2 linked regions of the Homo sapiens genome follow. The protein of the gene in region 2 interacts with the protein of the main gene of each other region in a pairwise test. Each region holds a gene or a part of one and is shown on either strand. Other genes may lie near its edges. The genes, in order: LSP1 and GREB1.

Region 1 (3,825 bases), on a different chromosome or scaffold from region 2:
ACACTGAGGGAAGCAAGGGTGAGGCTGTGAGCAGACGGGCAAGCGGGTGAATCACCGCGGAGGGCAGCACGCCGGGGGTGGCGGCAACAGTCGGAAAATTCCACATGGGACCATAGACCGGGCTGTGGTGACTCAGGTGGTGGGCTACCCCATGGAGACTGCGGGAGTCAGGAAGTCCGTCCCCACTCCCTACATACACACCAGACTGGGTCCCAGGGCCAGTCCTGGAGAGAGGAGCCCACAGCATCTCCCCTCCCCCGGCACAACCCAGGAGGAAGCAGGGAATGTCCACTAGAGACCATGGTGTTGGCCCCACATCCCCAGCATCCACAAAGCTGCAGAGACCACAGGATTCTGGAGTAAGCAGGAGGGATGGTAGCCAGGGCTGGACCTCAGGTTGGACAAATGTTTAGTGAGCTCACCCAGGGGAGGGGAGGTCACCCAGAGGAGGCAAGATTACCTGGGGGAGGTGAGATCACCCAGGGGAGGTGAGATCACCCAGGGGAGGCGAGATTACCTAGGGGAGGTAAGGTCACCCAGGGGAGGTGAGGTCACCCAGGGGAGGTGAGATCACCCAGGGAAAGCTAAATCACTCAGGGGAGGTGAGATTACCAGGGGTAGGGAAGATCACACAGAGAAACTGAGATCACTCAGGGAGGACAGATCACCCAGGTAAGGTGAGATTACCTGGGGTGGGGGGCAGTGAGCATGTGCTTCATTTGCACCTCAACCTGCCTATTTCCTCCTTGCCTCCTGTTTTAACTTCTGGAGGAGTCCCAGCCACAGACAGCCAGGAATGAAATGTGGCCAAGGCATATTTTAGTTCAAAAGAAGGAAGAATATTCCCACAGGGAAAAGAGCTACCTTGGAATGGCAGGACTTCCCTGTCACTAGAGAATGATCATCTGTCAGAAATGCTGATGGATGGGAAGTGACAAGAACAGATATTTACATGTAGCGGCCAAGATTCATGGTTTTACAACTAGAGCATGTCCTGTGAGGGACAATATGGGAGAGTATTTGATGTCAACTCCACTGTTATGTGTGCGCTCATCCATTCACCCACTCATCCATCCATCTACTCATCCATCCATCTCTCTGTCCATCTCTCCATTCATCCATCAGTTCATCCATCCATTTTACCCATCCACCCACCCATCTATTCATCCATCCATTTATCCACTCATCCATGCATCCGTCCATCCACCCATCCACTCATCCATCCATTCATCCATCCATTCATCCATCCATCCATCCACTCATCCATCCATCCACCCATCCATTCACCCATCCATCTATTCATCCATCCATCTATCCATCCACCCATCCATCCACTCATCAATCCATCCATCCATCCATCCATCCATCCGTTCACCCATCCATCTATTCATCCATCTATCCATCCACCCATCCATCCATCCACTCATCAATCCATCCATCCATCCATCCATTCACCCATCCATCTATTCATCCATCCATCTATCCATCCACCCATCCATCCATCCACCCATCCACTCATCCACTCATCCACCAATCCATCCATCCATCCATCCATCCATCCATCCATCCATCCATCCACCCACCCATCCACCCATCCACCCATCTATCCATCCATCCATCCATTCACTTATCCATCTATTCACCTATCCATCCATCCATTTACCCATCCATTCATCCATCCATCCAACCATTCATCTATTTATCTATCCATTATCCATCTATCCATCCATTCATCCATGCATCTATCCATCCACCCATCCATCCATCCACCCATCTATCCATCCATCCATTCATTCATCCATCTGTCTATCCATCTGTCTCTCCATCCTTCCATATATTTATTCAATAAATCTGTACTGAATTCAGACACTTTGAAGGTGCTGGGGATTCAGCATTAACAAAGTCCCTGCTCTTATGATGATCATGTTTCAAGTGTGGGAACAAACACATAAATAAATAAAGGTCAGATGATGGAAAATATGACAGAAAATATAAATCAGGGTAAAGGCATATGGAGTTCTGGAGGGGATTGATATTTTACGTATGATAGCCTCATGGAAATAAGTAATTCTTTCCTTGGGTCTTTATATATGAAAGCCTCATGGAAAGAAGTAATTCTTTTCTTATTTGAAAAGAGATGAGAGAAATGGGAGGAAGTGTTCCTGGAAGAGAGTGCAAAATTCCTGATTTAGTAGTGTCTACTCACACATCCGTCTTTCTAATAGTTTACTCAGCACGGATTCAATTGTCTATTGATTCATTATCTATCTATCTTTCTACTCATCTCTTGTTATATCCACCCACGTATCCATCTATTCATCTATTATCCATATCCATCCATATGTCTACTTCTCCTGACATCCTTCTATTAATCTTTCCAATCATTTATATGTCCATATTCCAGCCATCCAATCATCCACCCATACATAATTCCATCTCATGTGTCCTTCCATCAATACATTCATTTACCCATTTATACACCCATTCATCCATCATCCATTCATCCATAAATCCACTCATCTTTTGTTTTGGTACATTTGCTCATTTAGCTGTTGGGCTGATGATCAGCCAATATGCACAGGTACAACACAGTTCAATATAGGAATATATATAATCAGCACCCATTCCAGTAGATTCATATTTGTACCACATGCTTTGTTAAATATTCTAAATATCACATCTGCATTTATCTATCCACCCATCCATTCGTTCTTTCATCCAAACATCCATATATACATACAGATGTTCTTCTGTCCATCCATCTATTTTTTGTTCATCTGCTCATTTGTTCATCCATTCATCAATTACTAAATAATTCTTTCTATTTATGCATGAGTTATACTCTATTTATACATGAGTCCATCCAACCCATTCATTCATCCACCCCATCCATCTGCCCATCCATTCACCCACCTGTCCATCGATCCATGCACCTATCCATCCACTCATCCCTCCATCCATCCACCCATCCATCCATCATTCAATTATCCATCCATCCATCATTCAATTATCCATCCATCCATCCATCCATTTGTTCCTACTTCCTATCATTCTTCATTCATCTTTCCATTCATTCATACTGTTCTCCATAATTGATTCTTTTCTAATCTTTATTTTTCCTTTCTTATGCAACTAAGACATGGTTCATAAGCTCATGGCCCAAGGATAAAGCAGACCACCATGGCCCAGGAGGCTGAACACCTCAATAGAGCCTAAGCAGGGGCTACAGGGGCAGGGATCTGTCTTCATATTGACACATTCTCATCATCCCCGACACATACCTGCGAATGTATGTTCACAGAGCAGCATCCCAGTGAAAGGTGCTTTGAGCACTGAGAGAGCCCATGGGGACAGGGGAGGTCAGGGTGGTGGCCTCATTGGCTCCCGAGTGATCCCTGGTGGATAAATGTCTGTGATTTAAAGAGGAGGCAGCCTCCAAATGCTTGCAGCATGCATCTGTTCAGTGTGGCCCTCTGTTCAAGCAGGCACTGCTGACAGCAGGAGAATGGGCCAGAGCCACGGGTAGGGGGCAGGGTGGTGGGTCATGGGTGCTGGGGGCTGGGGGCTGGGGGCTGGGGGCTGGAGGCTGGGTGGTGAATGGTGGGTGCTGGGTGGTGGTGATGAAGCTCAGATTTTGGTTGGGACTGGGTCTAAGAGAAAGGCTAAAGGATTATTTCTAGATTCATCTGGAACGAATTGGCTAGATCCTTCTATCCCAAGTCCCATTGCTTTTCTGAGGGGAGGTACCTGGGACAGGAGGAGGAGGCAGCCTTGCCTCAGAAACCAAACTGTCAAAAGTGTAGGTTCCACTCAGGAAGGAGGAGC
Region 2 (3,825 bases):
CTTACATGTTCCACACCCTCTCAGAACTCTCCCATGCACAAGCCCGGGCTAGCCTGCTGGACGATGAGAGACCACATGGAGGAGAGCTGAACAGCCCAGCTGAGGCCACCAGCCAGCCCGCAGACAACCTGCTGGCTCACTATCGACACGAGTGAGTGAGCACAACAGAGCCCAGAAAATCATCCGGCTGAACCAAGCCCAAACTGCTAGCCCACAGATCCCAAAGCTAATGCTTATTTGGGAATAGTTAGGCAACGGAAATTAACTGGCATATAGCAATTAACCAAATTCATTACCCTCTCATATTAGAATCTAATATTGTGCCCAGAGCACACATTATTCTTGTATGTCTTTAATTTTCCATGCAAATGAACACACAACACCCCCCAATCACTGCCCCATAGAGCTTAGCTATCCACTCGGGTTGTTATATCTTTTATGTAAATAACTGTTTTCTTCAACTCCTTCTTTAACAATAAGTTCAACTGGCAGAGCTAGGCCTTCTGCTCCCTCTGAATTCCTCAGAGCACCTGCCACAACACTGTGCATGCAGCTGGTGCTCATGGCCAGCTCCGCCAGGAAGGCTGGAAGGTGAGTGGAGTGGTGGAGAAACCCCAGCTCTCATATTTCACCCCTGGAATTTCACCGCAACACCCAACCCCAGCCCGTGGGGTAGGAGGTACCTAACAATGAAGTCCTCTTGGGTACATTACAAATATTTTCACTGCTTAATAACAGGCTGCCAGATCTGAAAGGCCAGGGGCAACTCCACAGGTGCCTAGCACTCTGGAGAAGGAAAAGCAGCTTCTCCACATGGCCTGCCTTGAGCGGGGCTGGTTAAAGAGCAGCCAACTGACTCTGAGGTGATCAGGTGAGCACCGTCAAACCAAAAGCTCTACAAGGAGCATCTCTGTAAGAATGGTGAGAGACAATGGAACGTTCAGAACGACCTCTTCAAAAGATAAAGGAAATGTGTCTTTTAGAGAGACACACTGAAATATCTATATCTATAGGTATAAATATGTATAGATAGATGACATGATTTGAGGTCTGGGATTTACTTCCAAACAAAACAGGAAGGCAGAAGAGGAGAGAGGGACGGATGAAACAAGGCTGGCCATGAGTTAGCAATTGCTGGAGTTGGTAATGGGCCCTAGGGATTCACTGTGCTGTCCTATCTACCTAAGCCTACGCAAAATGTTACCTGGCAGAGCATTCAAGAAAAGACAGGGAGGGGATGAACGTCTACCCAGCTCCTGTTATCTTCCGGGCACGGAAGATAGGGCCTTTCATCAGTTATTCCAAACAGTTCTCACCACAAGCTTTTGCAAGTTGCTACTCTCCAATGTAACAATGAGGAAACCAAGGCTTGCAGATATTAAGTGACATGTTCAAGTAACAAAACTAGTAAATGGTAGAGCAAGGCTGAGGCTTGAATTGGAGTGACTCCAGAGCCCGTGCGCGACACCAGCCTCCTCCAAGTTCAGTCCCTGTATCGGTGTCTGCACTCCCTCACAGGAAGCTCTGTCTCTAGTCCCCGGCTCAGTCCCCAGTTGAAGCCACTTGGATCTGTCCCACTAGGTCTCTGAGCCAGTACCTTGTCTGTCACGAGGGGTAGTCGCATGCTCTCCAGCTGGCCTCCAGGTTGGCTGAAGACAAAGTGGTGCTCCTTGGACTTGGGGATGATGAAGTGCAGCTGGATCTCCTCTCCTAGCATGGAGTAAGAGAAGGCAAAGGCGTGCAGGGTGGACTCATACAGCTGGGGTGTGGGGGAAAGGACAGAGCTTGCCGTCAGAGTCCGGCCTGCTTCCCAGAAGACCCCAGGCCCACTCTGCTGTGACAACGTGCAGCTCACAGTCACCACTTCCCTACAGCACAAGAAACCCACGGGGTGACTCCAGTGCAAAGTGCAGACACCCAGGTCTGTTGACAGGGCAAGCACGCCCGAGGCCACACACCCACGACGAGAGCCTGCTCCCATCCTCAGTCCGCATGGGGCCTCACCCTGCTGTGCCAAGCAGGCATCAAGCTTTCTGGTCCCCGTGGCTTTGAACCTGACCAGAGCCCTGTTCTGGGTCACCAACTCAAGCATTCATGCTACAGAGCTCATTTTTAATTCTAATAAATGTATTTCTCCATCACAGTTACATGCAATCACATATTAACACTAGCTGCATATGCTTGGACACTCCTATAACACGGCTCGCCAGGCACCGTTCTGTCCTGTGTGCTGCGATTAACAATCCTACAAAGCAGTACTGTCATCATCCCCATTTTACAGGTGTGAAAACTGACATTCAGAGACCTTGGGCTCTGTCACCAAGTCACCAAGTCTGGCTGCGCCCTTAGTCACCTCCTCCAGCCTCCACTTCCCAGGAGCCTCACACCCCACATCTGTGCACGTGCTGCTCTGGGTGTGACCTCCAGCGCAGCTTTGCCCTCAGCTTGAACGTCCTCTTACGACCCCACCGACCCACGGCCCTTCCTACTGACATCCCCTCCTAGCATGTGCTATGCATGCATCCAGGGTCTGCAGGGAAGGAGGCAGACGAGCACACACTGCTTTAATCTCTGCCATGGCTCTTCTAGACCCACAGAGCCCTTTCTTTGGGAGCAGAGATGAGGGAGAAAGGGATTTTGACTCGGGGAGGCAGTTAAGGAGGACACACTGAGGCAGTTTCATAAAAAAGGTCAAGGGAGCCTTGGGAGGCAAAGGAAGAGAAAACAGAACGAGCAGGTGCAGGCCACATGGAGAGGGCAGCCAGGGGGCCACGCGGCCTCTGCACCCGCACCAGCTGGTTTCAAGCCCCCTCACCGTCCCAGGCATGCTCCTCTTCCACTGTGGCCCCCAGACCTGCGCACCCCTGAGAACACAGGCCAGGCACAGCCCAGCCGGCTGCCTCTCCTCCTCCTCTGCACTCTGGTGTCTGTTGATGCAGCCCGAGGTCCTGATGGCACTACCCACTCCTGACACTGACAGGGATGAGTAGGGACTGACACCCTTCAGTCCCTTTCAGTTCCCTACATTTCAAAATCAAGGACGTGTTTTCATGTATGTTTTTGTTTGCCTTAAAAGAAAAACTACATCTCCAAGAAACAAAATGTTAGGAGAGTTTATCTGGAACAAATGGGATTACTGATTATTTTGACCCTTAAAAAATTGCTCATATGTTCTTTCTTTCATCTACAGTACAATTGCACACTCAAACAATGAGTGCTGCGTCCCCGGCAGCCAAGCTCAAGGCCAGGCAGACAGGTGCTGTTTCCCTCTGTAAAAGGGATGGAAAGAGAGGCCAGTGCTCTTGCCTCAGGCCTTTCTGAAAGCAGCCCAGGACATCAGCTACCCTACATGCCTCTGCTCCCCAGCCAGGCATCTGACTAGCTCCCACCAACTCTGGCTCTCTCCCTCCACCCCTCTCTCCCTTGCTCGGGTCTGAAATGAAAAGAAATATTCAATGTAAAATAAATCCTCTGCCCTGTTTATAAATAACCAGCCTCACAGGCCCTCCATACACCTCCATGGGACTAAGAGACCAGTCTAAACACAGCTCTGCCCACACTGGGCTCCACTTGGAGTTCCCACTGAGAGAGTCCTCGTTCCTCCCCACAGTGCCCACCAGGCATTTTGTGGTCTGGCCTCTGCCTGCCCTCCGAGTTTCGTGGCTGAGTGTACCCACCCCAAAGTCTGGGTTCCAGAAACACCCAACCCACATCACTTCCCATCCCCTGGAAACCCCACCTCCCCTCTCCCACACATGCTGTCCCTCTCCCTTCATCTTATTAATTCTTGGCACCTTGGCAAATTCTTATTAATTCTTCCAAATC

The links.
Region 1: the proteins of GREB1 (region 2) and LSP1 interact in a two-hybrid assay, tested with the Homo sapiens proteins (one large-scale study listed by BioGRID and IntAct).

Annotation. Positions count from the first base shown.
Region 1 is NC_000011.10:1,859,449-1,863,273, reverse strand, and holds part of LSP1 (lymphocyte-specific protein 1), read right to left. Parts: intron 3,811-3,825; exon of another isoform or gene 3,738-3,810; intron 1-3,737. UniProt on the Homo sapiens protein: May play a role in mediating neutrophil activation and chemotaxis.
Region 2 is NC_000002.12:11,627,882-11,631,706, reverse strand, and holds part of GREB1 (protein GREB1), read right to left. Parts: intron 1,760-3,825; coding exon 1,598-1,759; intron 1-1,597. UniProt on the Homo sapiens protein: May play a role in estrogen-stimulated cell proliferation. Acts as a regulator of hormone-dependent cancer growth in breast and prostate cancers.